2 linked regions of the Homo sapiens genome follow. Each later gene encodes a partner of the first gene's protein in a complex. Links are inferred from orthologs where the notes say so. Each region holds a gene or a part of one and is shown in the gene's direction. Other genes may lie near its edges. The genes, in order: PAG1 and CSK.

Region 1 (7,940 bases):
AAATGCTTTAGCCACTATAAGTCTTTCACATATTTCTAATGTTGGAGATGGCACAACTCACTTCTTTTGGAATTGAATTTCAAAATCTTCCTTTCTCAATGCTGAAGTTTTGCTTGCTGGCAGGCAACTGGTTGGCTACTAAGGAAACACGCAGTTTTCTCTGATGCCTGCTTAAAATATGTTTATAAAAATTGTATTATATTGAAGTGATAAAGGCAGAAGAATTAAAAGTGAGCTTAAGGAATCTCTACCAACATTCTGAGTATCTACATCAGTTTTACAGGCACACATCTTGAGTGTTGATGTCAGGATAGAACTTTAAGGAATGTGTAAGGTCAGGATGACAAAGGACAATGGAAATGTCCATTCTCAAATCTGTAATATAAAGGCATTTCTTTAAAGCACTCTATTTTCACTTTTATAGCTACTGTCTCTTGCCACCATAATTTCTTTCTCCCGGTAGAAAGATATGAAAATGTCAAGTCCTTAAGCCTTGACTTTTCCTCTACAGTATAGTGTGAGGCTGCAGAGCTACATTAGTAGGTTTTGCCCTGATCTCCCTTGAAAGCCTTTTCTACACGATTCTCCTGTCCTCAGAGGAGCCCTAAAGTCACTCTTAAGTCTTCTGATGGAGAAGGAAAGTACTCTCTTAAAAACTACAGTTCATCATGGTTTACATTAAAATGATAAAATAGACACTAAGAGATGTCTAGTTTCAGATTTTAACTCTAGGAGAGATTTTGTAAAGCCCACCACTAATAGCTAGCATATTCGGAACCTAATATGTGCTTGAAGCTCTTGTTACTGTGTATTAGGTAATCAAAGATGGCAGTCACGTGATTACAGCTGATGGATGGAGATGCTGGGAGTGGGGGCCAGACAGCCTGTGAGGTTCGCACTGTGCAGCATGGCCTCTCCCCCAGCTGCTCTCTCCTTTTATTAGTGGGCAATTTGGTTGGGAGGGAGGAAAAAGTAACTCTTAGAGATTGAAATTGAGGGTATATTTTGTAGTAGTTCTTTAAAGCATCTATCATGGGTTTTAAGGAATTTATAATCTATTTCTTAACCTCTGATCCCTCTTTCCTATAGACAAAGTCACACGTGGAATCCTCAGCACTTTAAGTTCAGGTAAGCTGTGAGTTGCCAGCAGAGTCTTGATTGCTTGCTCTCTAATCTTGCTCACAGGCCATTGCCCAGTCTTATCTCAGAAGCTGCTGATACTCAGTCTCCACCAGCCTTTGCTCCTCAGCAACCAAAGGCCACTTCCTGCCTTCCTTCTTCCATCCCTAAATTCCATCCTGTCCCAGCCCCCGACCCCATTCCTGCCTTAGCCCAACATCCCTACCCATCACCTATTTCTTCTCAGGTTCAGGGTTATAATTAACACTCTATTAGCTTTTTTTGTTGTTAATAGAGACTTAAAAAACATTATGGAGCTAGCCTGAAAATCCTGATTATTTATTATATTGACTGCTCTAAATTGTAAGTGAGATAACTTAGACATGAACATTTACAATGCAGGCACGTCGTAAGTTTCCTGCATTAGGGCAAGAATTGGGCTTTCTAATACTTTTCTAAAGTTTCTCGGGAAAGAAGACAGGACCCTAATCTCCCCCAATCCCATCTACACCAGGGATTCAGTGATGGTTTCCAGTGAAGTTATCAGCTGCTGCATGTGTTCAAACAAGGCAAACTTTGTAATAAGCCATGTCCACAAATCAAGCACAACTTGTATTAATTTTTATGGCAAGCTTATTTTTCACCAAGTGGCATCTAATTCCTTCCTCCCAACTGTCTCACTCTTGCTAGTCACCTTGGACTCCCCACAGTTCTCTTATCTGGACTGTGTCTATGAAGTAAGTGAAGATTTTCATGTCAAAGAATCCCTTTGAGTGAAATGGATGAAGAAATGTAATTAATAAAGGTGGAGAATTTTTGAGCCTAAGCTTTCCAGCTCAGTTGGTAAGCCTGTGATTTTTAGCAGAAAGACTTTAATAAAAATCTATCCTAGGTACAGTTTCTGCATGAGGGAAGAATAGTTTCAGTGGAGTCATTAGTGTCTATATAATTGAATATCTCACTACTAGGACTTTTAGAGGCATTGAAGGAAGGAATTCTCAGCCAAAGAGTAGGCCTTGCTGACCCATAAGGAATACAGACCTCAGAGAAAAAGATGTAGCTGCGATTTCTGCCAGACAATCAATAGCAGCTGATGTGAAATAAATTCTAAATACAGACACAGTCAATATCAAGACACAGTCAATATTAAAGCACAGTCAATATAGTATCAAGACAATATTATATATTTCATGTATTTAATGCCAATAACAATGGTTCAAAATTCAATAGCAGTAGGACACACCAATTAATAGTAACTTTTTATTTAATTAAATCTTGGATCTCTTGAAATCAATATACAAATGAATTATGTAAATATTTTGATTGAAATGTCGGGCACCTAAGAAAACAATGACAACTTTGGGTTCTTCTAAAGGTCCCAACATGACTATTCTGCTACCTTCATATTTAAAATATATATATATTTCTTATTAAAAACTGAAGTAAGTTTTACAACCTGTGATGTACCAGCTCCTTCAAAGAATTCTTTTTTCTTAGGAATTAATTTCATAATCACACCGAAGAATGGCTGTAATGGAAGAGTTAGATAAGAAGTAAAGATAAAGGCAGGTAGACCACAGTTGGCAGTGTAGCATTCCCAGTCAAACCTCTGGATTAGAAGACTGTATATAACTATCACATACTTGCTTCCAAAACATTACTCAGACCGAGAGTATAGCCCATAGCATCTACCACAAGCACAAGAATTGATCCTGACACTTTTGGTTCTCTATCTAGGAGTGGCTTTGAAATACATTTGAGTTCCAATTTACTGATGGCAAATCCTGATATGAAAAATTTGGAAATGAAAAACAATCCTCAGCATGTTACTTGGTGAAAAGAGAGCAGAGGAAAAGGACAGAGGCTAGAGATTGGCTCCTGCCTGCATTCGTGAATTTGTCTAAATCACTTAGCTTCTGAGCCTGGGTAAAATGAGGATGGTAATTACACTTGTCACCAGATAACGTGAATATTGCCCTTCAAACTCCTCAATGAAGCCTGCACTGTGGAACTGCAATGTCCTAGGACCGGGTTGCTCTTAGAACATTTTGTTCTAAGTGTATCCTAACAAGTGTAGCAAAACTGGAAGACACAAAATGTATTTCCTCCCCACAAGAATGAAAGCCTTCCTAACTCCAAATTTAGGCACAGCCTGTAAAAGATGTGACTAGTAAACACAGAAACCATTTGCTTTATAAGGTCTAAATTGTCCTCTTCTCCAGAGTTGTAGAAGCCAAGTCCAACACGGAGATCCCTACTTTTATTCAAGTTCCACCATTAGTCAACTCATGTCCAGGATGTCTTCTTTAATATATAAAATGGGGATACTTTTTTATATTATTATTCAACTTAAGAGACCACTGTGAAATTTCAGTGAGGTAACGTATGTGAAATGTTATACTCCATAAGTTCTTAAACACCTGAGTTTCATACCATGCTCTGAAGCAAGAGGCCAAGTCTGGTTCCTGGGTCCGCTTCCCCAATGGGCTTTTCCAAGCTGTAGGCTGAGTCTAAACTGTTTCCTCCCACATACCCTTCCCTCTGCGACACACTAACAACATCCCTTACTCCATCACTGTCTTCCTTACCCTCTCCTGATGAGCCTTCTTCCCCAGCCACCTTTAAGCTCCCATTAATGATATGTGTAACGAGTGTTCAATAGAGTGTGTGTGTGTATATTTAATGCCATTTATATGTTTTTTCTTGCTAAGTAATGCATCATAATTTTAGAAAATTGGGACTAGTCAGATAAAGCACCCGTTGGTTTAGAATCCCTGACTCAAAGTCAGATGTCCTGAGTTCTAGACTTGGTTTGTCTCCTTGTAAGTGCAAAAGTTTATTCCCAATTCCAGGTTGCTAGTGTAAACTTGAAGTTTGGCCCAAACAAAACCCCTATCAGATTTATTTAGAGTGTTGATGCCAAATGGAATTCTAGAAGCCCACCTTTGCCAGGGGCTGAGCCAGAACCACTATCACTGGGGGTACGGCCTGGGCATTTGTTCTGCGTTTTTTATAAGCCCCTCGGGTGACTGTCAGACAGGCCAACTGTTTCAGAAGCTCTGCTCCAGGCTCTAGATCACACGTTAAGTAGCAAGGATGGGGGTCTGGACCTCCAGTATTGGCATCCTCCGAGAGCTTGTTAGAAAGGATGTCTCCCTCATTATCCCAGGCCTACTGAATCTGAATCTTGCATCTCATCACAATCCGCAGGAGATTCTGTCACACACTGAGGGTTTGAGAAGCACTGCTGTACCTTGGTATCTTTAGATACCTACTGATACCTGGGTGGGCCCCACCCAGACATTGTCCTGTACTTGTTCTGGGATGCGTCCGGGGCAAAGGGTTCTTACAAGCTCCCCAAGTTATTTTAATGCACAGCCACAATAGAAGATCACTGTCCCCCAAATGGCAACCCTTTACGGTTAAGCTGTAACCTGAATTAAATTGGCTTTTGTGGGCTCCCCAGGGACCTTAAGGACCGCTTAAACGGTGCTGTTTAAAGGACAATGGGCTCCTGGGACAAGTTCAACCACAGAGCTTTGGGTTCATAAAATCAGGGCAGGGAAGACTTCCTGCATCCTCCCGCGAGCAAGCCAGGCCCCGCGCCGGTCCTCACCCGTGTGCACCCCCAGCCCGGCCCCGCCCGGCTCGCCCCCTCCCGCCCCGCGGCCCGCCCCTCCTCCCCCGTGACGTGCCGCTGCGGCCAGGATCATGCGCACTCGCGCCCCGCTCCCCGCGCGGCTGCTCCGCCTCGGCGCCTGTCATTCTCCGCGGCGCGGCGGCGAGTGCTGGCTGCGGTACCCTCCCGCTCGCTTGTCCGTCTGCGCGCCCGCGATGTGACCAGCCGACTGGGGGCGGGCTGGCGGCTCTGCCTGCGGCAGCGCATCGGTTTTTCTCCTGGCAGGTCCCTAATTGAGCCGTGATTCCCTTGGAGCCAGAGACACCCACCAGGGGCTCGGAGCGCCGCGCTCCGGGGCTGGAGGCAGCTGCAGCGCTCGGGTCCGCGCGGCCGGGTGCAGTAGCCTCAGTCCCAGCCGCCGCCTCGCTGAGTCGTGTGCCCTGGCGAATGCCCGGCGCCCGGCACAGCTGAGCCAAGGCGACTGGTGCAGAGCGGCGGCGCCTGGTCCTGCACTTGCCGCTGCTGCCGGGCTGTGCCGGGGCGGCGGCGCTGCGCGCCGGAGTTTGCAGAGGCTGCCTCCGAGCGCCGTCCGCCAGGAAGACTCCCTGCCTCCTGAGTCCCAGTAAGTTGACTGTAGTTTCTGAAGTTGGAGGGAGCCGTGGGAAGGAGAGGTTCGTTTTTATCTTCTTGTGGGAAGCCGAGGGTGGCACCTCTTGTTAACAGAGTTCCAGCTCGAGGAGGGAGTGCGGGGTGCCAAGAAGGGGACAAGGCAGCTGGAAGGTCTGGAGTCCAGGGCTGGCTGACCTCAGCATCTCACGAATGTGCCAGTTGGAAATATGCTGGGAGAGGACAGGTACTCCTAGGGCATTTCGACTGCTGCGTGCTAATTATTCATTCCAAGCTCCTTGACTCTGTGTTTACGTTGGGGTGAAGGGGCTGGGCAGGGTCTTGTCACCTCCATCCTAATTCCTCTGGGGAGTGTGGCCAGCACTGCGATGGATCTTTGGGCGAGCCATTTCTTTCAGGCCTGCAGGCTTCCCGCGCATCCCGCTTTACTCTTCCCCTAGGCAGAAGTTGCCAACCTTTTCATAATTGGAGCCTAGTCCTTTAGGGAAAAAACAACTTATATGTCGACCCGGTGTTTTATGCCCTAAGGCAAATAAAACGAGCTCTGGGCGTGTGAATTCATACACTTTAAGAATGTAGGCAAGTCTCAAGAAATAGGATTCAGATAATGACACTTGGATTTCACCCTGATTGTCCTGCACCTCTTATGTAAGCCTCCCGGCTGGATAACTTTATCTCTGCAGTGGCTGCAGCTGTGGCCCTCCATTCCATTTGTTTAAAGTCCAATTGAACAGTATTTACTGAAAATGCTGACATGATATAGCGGCCTGAAGTCTGAAACAGAGTGCACTCTTCAAATTGGAGTGTCTTCTCCTAATAGGGAGCATGGGAGGAACAACCCACTATATTTTTCAAGGCAGCTCCAGGAATTAGACCCATAAATCATGTTTTAAAATAGCATGCATTGTGCAGAGAGCATGCAGAGGACCGCTTTTTGAACACATCCCCTTTGTTTTAGAAAAAGTGGAAATTGTTCATGCCAGACAATTGTTGAGTCTAAAAGTTAAGTGTACTGATGGGCCTAATTATCTTAATAAACAAAGAGCATGATTTATAGGTAGCTGCAGTGCCCTACTTTGAAGGATAGAAATCTTTAACCTTTCTTTCTCAGCTGTTCCCGAGAGATTCCTTTTAAGCAGAGCTATGGATTATCATCATTGATGTTTAATACCTGAGTTGGTTAAACTTGTAAAAGGAATAGTACTTTGAAGTACCATGCAGTACTGCTGTGTGACTGTTACACAGCGAATATTATAAATAAGAGGAATATTTGGAGTATTGGGTATAGATGTCATTAGTTTAACAAAATAGGTCATATTAAGACTTTCCTGCTAAATATATATACACATACATAAATGTTTAATTTGGACTTGAAATTATTGTTTAAACCAAAGCTCAGGGGTATGTTTTAATGTAAGATTTATTTACATAATCTTTGAAGAGAGAAGTGCATTTATTTATGGTATTTCAGCATGCAGAACAAGATGAACTAGTTATAGGCACCTTATTTAAAGTGTAAAGGGTTTTTTTTTAGGAATACTAAGAAAATACACAAAATGTTATTTCAGAAGTTGAAAAGTTAGTCACATCAACACATTGCGGTTTGTGAGAGCATCCAGTGCTTATCTCTAGAAGAGATTACATCCAAGCATGGAATCTCAAACAGATTGACCCATTAAGCCCTATTGCAGCCTGGTTAGGAGGACAGGCTATGGAGCCAGGCTGCCAGCTCTGGTACCATCTGTTTGAATCTAGGCAAGTAACCCAAAGTCTGTGCCTCAGTGTCTTCATCTGTACAATGGGGATGACAGTAGTAGTACCTACCCCACTGAACAGTAGTGAGAATTAAATGAGTTCATAGACATAGAGCTGTTGGGCCAGTATCTGGCATATTAAGCTTGTTCTGGGAAAAATTTTCATTGTTATGAAAGGAAATGCATCTTTGGACTCTATGGACATTGAATTGCTGCTATGGACATTGAATTGCTGCTGATGAATATTAACAGAAGCAGTTCATGTGTATAATAGGAGAGAAGGTATAAACATTTATTGTGCACTGTCTAGCGATACAGACACCAACTGGTATTTAACACTGTCTTGCTCAATTCCCCACCACAGTCCTTTGAGGTAAGTGGCTTCATCTCTACTTTAGAGATGAGAAAATGGGAGCTCAGTGAGATCAAATAGTAGAAATTGGAGCTGGCATTTAACCCACGTCTGTCTGTGTTGAAACTGTGTTCTTTTTGACCCTGCTGCCTCAACTTGCAAATGAAGTAGTTGCATTATTATCCTCAATTTATACATGAAGAAATCTAAGCTTAAGGATTAAAGTATGCAAAGTGCTTAACAGCACCCACAACAGAAATGATCATAATTATTGTTAAATAACTTGCCCATGCTTCCATACCTCCTAATGTGTGGTAGAGGTGCCAGGTCTTTCAATTTGAAGTGGATTCTGTTGCTTTATTATTTTTCTATTCATGCATTCAGAGAGTCAAAAAAGAAAAATTGGTGTGATGTTAGAGTTTACACTGGAGGGTGGTGGTCTCCATTTGGTTTCCTGCCTGCACGTGTA
Region 2 (7,872 bases), on another chromosome or scaffold:
CAGGAAATAGAAGGGGACTTTGCTGGAAATCTGCCTTTAATCTTGGCTTCCTGTTTTCTGCCCTGGGGGACTGCCCAGACGGTCTGAGTTTCAAGCTATTTCACACCAGCTTCTCTAAACTGTCATCTCTGTGCAAAGAGGCTGGGGGAGGGGAGGAGGCTGGGTGGAGAGAGGAGCGGCCCTTCCCTTCCCAGGGGACCCCATAAGGGTATAAATGCACATACATGTGCATAAGCTCTGGACTGCTGGAGGCCAACCCAACTTTGCATGGAGCTATCCCATTTGGCACTTGTATCATCAAAATGCAGCCAGAAGCTTCTCTCTGGTTCCCCACATCCAGGGGTGGGTCTCCAACCTCTCCTCTCTTCTCCATTCCCCTGGGGCAGGCCCAACAGCCAGGCAAGAGTGGCCCAGCCTCAGAGAGCTAGTGTTCAGTTCCCAACACTGCCTTGACTCCACATTTCACAGGCATCCCAAGCTCATTTTGTCCAAAACCAAACTCCTGAGTGTTCCCCCAGCCTGGCACTCTCCCCAGGTTCTCCCATCTCGCACCATCTCCCCAGGTGCTCCAGCCACACCTGAGGACTGAGGAGTCATGCCTGATTTCTCCTGTGGCCTCACTCCCCACAAACAACCCCTCACGGAGAGCTGCCCTGGGACTTGCCTTTGTCCATTCACTTCCCTATCCCGCTGCTTCCACCAGGGCTAGACCCGTCAGCCCTGGTCCAGGCCATGCAACAGCCTCCTCACTAGGGCTTTGACCTTTGACCTTAACTTTTTTTTTTTTTTTTTCTGGAGTCAGGGTCTCACTCTGTTGCACAGGCTGAAGTTCAGTGGCTCACTGCAGCCTCCATCTTCCCACCCTAAGTGATCCTCCCACCTCAGCCTGGCTGAGATGGGAAGATTGCTAGCTACCAGCACACACCACCATGCCTAGCTAATTAGAAATTTTTTTTTTGTAGAGACAGGGTCTTGCTCTGTTGCCCAGGCTGGTCTCAAACTCCTGGCCTCAAGTGATCCTCTTGCCTCAGCTTCCCAAAGTGCTGGGATCACAGGCGAGAGCCACAGGGCCCAGCCGACCTTCACTCTTTATCATATCACTACCCTGCTTATAAACATCTTTCAATGGCTCCCCATTGCTCATATGATAAAACCTAAACTCCTGTAATAAAAATCTCTGGCCCACAACACCCTATAGAATCTGTCCCTTCCTCAAACACCACTCTCCCCTGCTTGCCGGTCTCATCACCTTGGCCTTCTGGCTGTCCCTTGAGCCACTGAGGCTTTCTGTGCCTCAGGGTCTTTCACTATCTTCCTCCCCACCTGCAATACCCTCCCCCACTCCTCCAACACTGGCCTGGGGCGTGGTGGCTATCGCCCGTAATCCCAGCACTTTGGGAGGCCAAGGTGGGTGGATTATTTGAGGTCAGGAGTTTGAGCCCAGCCTGGCCAACATGGTGAAAACCATCGCTACTAAAAACACAAAAATTAGCTGAACATGGTGGCACACACCTATAGTACCAGCTACGTGGGAGGCTGAGACAGAAGAATGGTTGAATGCCAGAGCGGGAGGTTGTGGTGAGCCGAGATCATGCCACTGCACTCCAGCCTGGGCAACAGAACAAGACTCCGTCTCAAAACAAACAAACAAAAAACAAAACAAAACAAAACAAAAACTTACTAAGACAGTTGTAGATAAAGGCAGATTTATTAGAAAAAGTAGGAAAATACATTGCAAGAAGGCAGAAGAGAAGCTGACTGCCAGGAAACAAAAGGTTGTTGGAGATTTTATAGAATTAGTGTTATGCTATCTGTTGAGGAGGTTTTTGTGCAGTATCAAACGCCAAGGGTACAGTGAGCTAACTTGCCAAGGGTACAGTGAGCTAACTTGCAGGAGTCTGGTGATAGTCGGGCACAGGAAGATTGTGAATTATTTGCACAGGAGAGCTATATGTCCTAGACATGAAGAAAGGCAGACTCACAGCTTATCTAATTTCTCTTTTTGCTTTCCCTTGCTCCCACCGACCAGATTCCCTTTCCCTAATTAGCACTTCCCACCTAGCACTTAGTAGGTGCTCAATAAGCATTTGTTTTTTTGTTTTGTTTTGTTTTGTTTTGTTTTTTTGAGACAGAGTCTCGCTCTATTGCCCAAGCTGGAGTGCCGTGGCGTGATCTCGGCTCACTGCAAGCTCCGCCTCCTGGGTTCACACCATTCTTCTGCTTCAGCCTCCCCAGTAGCTGGGACTACAGGCACCCGCCACCACGCCCAGCTAATTTTTTGTATTTTTAGTAGAGACAGGGTTTCACCATGTTAGCCAGGATGGTCTCGATCTCCTGACCTTGTGATCTGCCTGCTTCGGCCTCCCAAAGTGCTGGGATTATAGGTGTGAGCCACGGCGCCCAGCCCAATAATTCCACCAGAGGACAGGTCTGTGGGAGTGGGGCCCTTTATCGATTTGTTTATGGTTTTATCCCCAGTGCCTGGAGTACAGGAAGATTAAAAAATTTATTTCACTTTGCTGAGAAGAGGTGGAGCCAGGATTCAAATGCTGGTCTATTTGACTCCAAAGTTCACAGCTGGGCCACAGCACACCCAGGGGAAAAAGTCAAGTGCATTTGGGGATAAAGAAAGGTTGGTGACAAAACTGGAACAGGGATTAGAGTATTTTCCCCAAATCCCCAGTCTTTTCTTTCCCATTCTGCTAGCTGATTCAGCCAGGGGAGGGGAGATGTCAATTTCTCCCTCCCAGAAGGCTTTGCAGAGCTGCTGAAGTGCTTTCTTGTAGGCTGAGAGGCGGCCCCCCATCCGGCCCCATATTATCATTCCATCTTGACCTCAGAGGAAAGAAAGGGAAACCAGCTCTGCTGAGCACCCTTTCCACTCCCTCACCCCCAGGCCGTTATCTTGCTGAATCTGCACTATCTATCATGAGAGAAGTATATTTTGAGCCTGATCTTACAAAAGAGGAAACAGCTCAGAGACCTTAGGTAACTAGCCCTAAGTCACACAGCTAGTAAGTGGACGGGTTGAAATTTAACTTGGAGACTTGAACCCCAAATTCATCTTTTTTCTGTTACACCACACCTATCTCTGAAACTTACTGGCTGTCTCCTCAAAGGACATCCCTCTCCAAAGGGCTGGCTCCAGCTGGGAAACCGGCCTAAGGGTGCCCTGGGTCAGAGGGCCGACCTGTGGTTTTGGGGGCAACTCCTCCTGGCATCCGAGGCTCTTTAAAACAATCTGCAGCCACACTGTCTCCCAGCTCCGTCTCCCACAGGGCTGTTTGCCCTCTTCTCGCTCCCTCGGGCCTCTTCATGCTTATTTTGTGTTCCAAGACTTTGTCAGCATGCCCCACTTCCTCCCCCCCAACCCCAAGAGTGCCTCTTCCCTCTGTCCACCCAAGCCTGACCCTTGCTTCAGGGTCTAGTCCCTAGAAAGTCCCCCACCTTTACCTCCTCCCTACGCTGGAGTCTCTGGTCTCGCCCTCATCACTGTATCCCCATTCTGTTCCCCGGTCTCACCCTCATCACTGCATCCCCATTCTGTTCCCCCGCCACCCTGCACTCTCCCACCCCTGTCATGCCTGAGCACGCTGTCCTCTCCTGTGGCTCAGAGCAGGTCATCTCCCTGCTTTTCGTTAACAGTGATGTAACAGCCCTTGCTTAACGGAGGGCTCCTCACGTGCCAGCTACTGCATACTAAGCACTTTAAACGTATTAACTCATTTCCTCCCCTCCCCACAAAAACTTAAGAAGTCGGTGCCATTATATATCACCTATTTTACCAAATGGGGAAACTAAAGCACAGAGAGGTTAAGTAACTTGCCCAAGGTCACAGAGCTGCTGACAACTTCTTTATTGCCTCCAGGCTGAACATAAACTCCAAGAAAGTCCCATGAGGCTCTTTGGATCTCTTTTGCCCCTGTTGTTTGCAGGAACCCATCTCCCACCACTCTCCCCCACCCACACTGCAAGCGGCAGCCGCCTGAGCTATATTTAGATCCCAGAAGCCACCAAGCTCCCTCCGCACTCCCCGCCCTTGTGCATGCTGTTCCCTCTGCCTGGTCCCGGCTCTGTGAGGTGTGAGGTCTCCCCGTTAGCCCTAGTTTTCTTTCTGCCTCCTGGGAACCGTGTCCACCACCTCTCCACTTTGATCAATTATTTCCTTGCCGTTGTCTGTCGGCCTGTCAGCCTACCCCCACCCGACCGAGAACGCCTTGACGGTAGTGAAATGGTCTTGCCAATAGACTCCAGAGCAGGCTCCGCCACGATGTCAGCGCCAGGAAATGTTGGTGAATGAATGAATGAAGGCTTTCTGCTGCGAATCAGGCCCACTCTCCACAAACAGACCTGAGGAGAGGGGCCCAGGCCCGGCCCCCAGCGCTTCTGCAGCGGGAAAGCTGCGTCCAGAGAAGGCTGGGAGGTTGCTCCCAGGCCGGCTGAGGAGAGACCCTCGGAGCCTTCAACGCAGCCAGGCGGCAAGTGGGGGCAGGGCGTGGGCGCGGACACACCCCCCGCAGTGCCCCCGGCGCCCGGCAGGGGGCGCCGCCCCGCCGGCCCACGCCCCGCCGCGCGCCGGGCAGGCCCCCTCGCGCAGGCGCGCTGCCGCGGGCGGAGGATCCGGGCCGCGCTTCCTCTCGCCAGGCCTGCGAGCTTCCTCCCAGCGGAGCCCTGGGCGAGCCGAGGTTGGCCGCCGCCGCCGCCGAGCCCGCTGCCGCCCTCCCGCTCCTGCCCCACCCGCGCCTTGCCCGGGGGCTTCTGCCGGGGTGGGGTCCGAGCCGGGCGACCGCCCGGCTGCGCCGCCGTCGGGGCCGTAACCCGGCCCGCCGTCCCTCCCGCCCCAGCCAGCCTCTGGCCGCCGGAGCCCGCGGGGCGTGGAGCGCGAGGAGCCCCGCGGCCCCGATCGAGCGTCCGGGGCGGCCCCCGGCAGCCAGCGCGACGTTCCAAAATCGAACCTCAGTGGCGGCGCTCGGAAGCGGAACTCTGCCGGGGCCGCGCCGGCTACATTGTTTCCTCCCCCCGACTCCCTCCCGCCCCCTTCCCCCGCCTTTCTTCCCTCCGCGACCCGGGCCGTGCGTCCGTCCCCCTGCCTCTGCCTGGCGGTCCCTCCTCCCCTCTCCTTGCACCCATACCTCTTTGTACCGCACCCCCTGGGGACCCCTGCGCCCCTCCCCTCCCCCCTGACCGCATGGACCGTCCCGCAGGCCGCTGATGCCGCCCGCGGCGAGGTGGCCCGGACCGCAGTGCCCCAAGAGAGGTGAGTGCCTGGCCGTCCCGGAGTGTCCCCTGGAGGGAAGAGGGTGGAGGTCGCGCGTCTAGTCTCTGTTGCTGCCACTGTCGCGTCCACTCCCATTCCCCTCTTCTCCCACTTCTCCCTTCTCTCCTTTACTCCCTTGCACGGGTTCGAATTCTCCCAGGAGCCACTGTCAGAACCCAAATTGGAAGGGAGTGCATGAGGGAGGTACTGCCCTGCAGCTCCACGGACTCGTCTTCTCGGGTCATCCCGAGTCCCCCCCTCTGTGGAGCTCAGAGTAGGAGGTGGCTGGAGTCTGGAGGAAGAGGATCCGTATGGGCCAGGTCCCTAGAGAGAGTGCTGGACTCCCCTGCCCTTCCCTGTACAGGGCCTCCCCGCAGGTGCCCTGGCTTGCTTGGTTCTGACCCCTCCCTCATTACCCCACCATGACCCTGCGGGCTGCAAGCAAGCCCAGGGCCCAGCCACCTCGGGTGAGCAGTTAGAAGCCCAGGTCCTAGGACTGAGCCTGTCACCCTTGGCCTCTCAGAAGACCAGGCCTAAGCCAAGGGATCTTTGGGTGGGAAACTGGGCAGGCCTTCTGCCCGGGGGGAGGTAACGGAGCATTAGCACCATGCCCCCACCTTCTGGCACCCTGGGCAGCCCATTCTCCTAGGCTCTTTGTGGCCCAGACCAGGTGTCAGGAAGGGGTGTGTCCAGCCAGCAGATTTTTTGGAGCTTAACTACCAGTTCACTTCCCCGCCCATTTTGTACACCCGGGAACCGAGGCTCAAAGGGAGAAGTTGCTACCCCAGGCCTCTAGTGGAGTTAGGCTGGCTGTCCTTTCATCCCCAGCTATACAGGGCTGGATGGCTGTGGGTGGAAGGAAACCAGGCAGGCACCTTCACCCACTGGGGACACAGGCCCCCAGCCCGGCCCCAGAGGGACCTTGTTGGTTGAGCACGTGCTTCCCTGCAGAGGGCTGGAGGGAGTGAAAGGGCTTCCGGCTCCAGCTGTGGCTGGGTCAGCTAGCAGGAGATGTGGGGAATGTGTGGTGTATGGCCATCTGTGTGGTGTGGCAGGAAGGTCCGGTCCTGGCCCCGGCTCTGAGTTGAAACAACCTGGTGGTCAGTCCTGACCCAGCACTCGCCACACCTATGGCCCAGCTGGCACAGGAGCAGCCAAGTTCAGGATATAAATGGGGTCACATGGGAACCGTGGAAGCTCTGTCTCCACTGGCAGCAGGCTACAGACTGGGGACATGGGAGCATTGTGAGAGTGGGGACACCCAGGGGGCCTGTTTCAAGCTCCTAGTACCCTGGCGGTTCCAGTGTCTTTCTTGGTTGTGGCCACAGCAGGAACAGGGCAAGGACAGCAGGGGTGAGGTTGAGGCCTGGCAGGATCCTCTGGCCCAGGAGAGCAGGCATTGCCCTGGTGGGTGCTGAGCAGTGTCTGGGCTCCCTTGGAGCTGCTGGCAGTTTTGTCCTGCTGGGTCCCTGCTCACGATTTAGGGTTTTTTTGTTTTTTCACTTTTTTTTCTGGCTGTCCTGACATGCACAGTGGAGGGGACCCAGATGTCCTGGGCCTGTGAGACTCCCCTCACATGGCCCCACACCCAGCCCTAACTTCCTTTCCAGCCTGAGGGACTGGGGCTGGAGCCTGACATGGTTAGCTCCCTCCCACCCCAGTCAGCCTTTTTAATTTTTATTTTATTTTATTTTATTTTTTTACCAACTGTGAGCTGTGAAGGTGTGATCCAGGGTCCCAGGGCCTTTGAAGAAAGGAGTCTGGCTTCTGGCTGGCACGTGTGCAGGGATGTGCTTTTCATTGGTGAGCTTGGTGCCCTCCACCCTCTCAGAAGCAGCTGCTCTTCTCTCTGCATTGGGTCAGGGGCAAGGAAAAAGCAGAAAATGTTCCCATTCACCACCGCAGGGGGGCCAGACCCCAAAAGGCTGAGCCACACAGAGTGGCCCTCGGCAAGGGTTGGAAATTTCGGGGACAGAATGCAGCTTCCTCCAAACAAGTATAGGTAGGGGTTGAGACCCAGGATCCACAGTGTGACATGGCTGCCCCCCAAAGGGGGCAGACCCACCTGGGTGCGGTTCTGGGCTCCATCTTTTGAAGGATTTTAAAACCTTGACAGGTCATCTTCAAAGAGCCAGGGATGTTGACTGAGTCTGGGAAAGAGAAAGTAGGGACAGATTCTCATATGTCTGAGGGACTGTCCCAAATGAGAAAGGCATCCCATGGCAGAAATTGTCCCAGACACGTGGGCCAGAGCTAGGGAGCAGGTGGGTCCCAGGGAAGTGAATCTGAGCTCATTATAGGGAAACCATGAATGTACTCATTTTCTTGATTTAGAAAATAACAAAACAGCGCTACAGGAAATTTAGAAAATGAAACAAAAATCACCCACTATTTCTTCAGCAGGCAGTGACTGTGTTAGCATTTTGGAGTTCACTGCCAGTCTTTTCCCCATCCTTTTCCTTCATTGTCGTTGTCACTGGAGTGTGTGTGCCGTGACACCTTTTTTCATTTAATACTGCGTCTGTGGGCATTTTCTCATGGTGCTACGCGGTCTAAGTAACGTTGCTTCTAAAAAGCTACAGAACATTCTAGGCTGGCCTGCTGCAGCGCCATCA

What was found.
Region 2: the proteins of PAG1 (region 1) and CSK are in contact, whole or in part, in an NMR structure (PDB 2RSY), measured with the Rattus norvegicus proteins. The link is inferred for Homo sapiens from one-to-one orthologs. Residues at the interface, in NP_071589.1 of Rattus norvegicus: Phe291, Ser292, Leu294, Tyr296, Lys297, Ser298, Arg299, Glu300, Glu301, Leu305, Ile310, Met313, Tyr314, Ser315, Ser316, Val317, Asn318, Lys319; in NP_001025210.1 of Rattus norvegicus: Thr88, Arg89, Glu93, Arg107, Ser109, Thr110, Asn111, Tyr112, Thr117, Cys122, Glu123, Lys125, Val126, Glu127, His128, Tyr129, Arg130, Ile140, Asp141, Tyr156, Asp161, Gly162.

What each region holds. Positions count from the first base shown.
Region 1 is NC_000008.11:81,109,011-81,116,950, reverse strand, and holds the start of PAG1 (phosphoprotein associated with glycosphingolipid-enriched microdomains 1), read left to right. Parts: upstream 1-4,882; 5' UTR 4,883-5,360; exon of another isoform or gene 5,361-7,940. UniProt on the Homo sapiens protein: Negatively regulates TCR (T-cell antigen receptor)-mediated signaling in T-cells and FCER1 (high affinity immunoglobulin epsilon receptor)-mediated signaling in mast cells.
Region 2 is NC_000015.10:74,777,464-74,785,335, forward strand, and holds the start of CSK (tyrosine-protein kinase CSK), read left to right. Parts: upstream 1-4,616; 5' UTR 4,617-5,257; intron 5,258-6,971; exon of another isoform or gene 6,972-7,060; intron 7,061-7,872. UniProt on the Homo sapiens protein: Non-receptor tyrosine-protein kinase that plays an important role in the regulation of cell growth, differentiation, migration and immune response.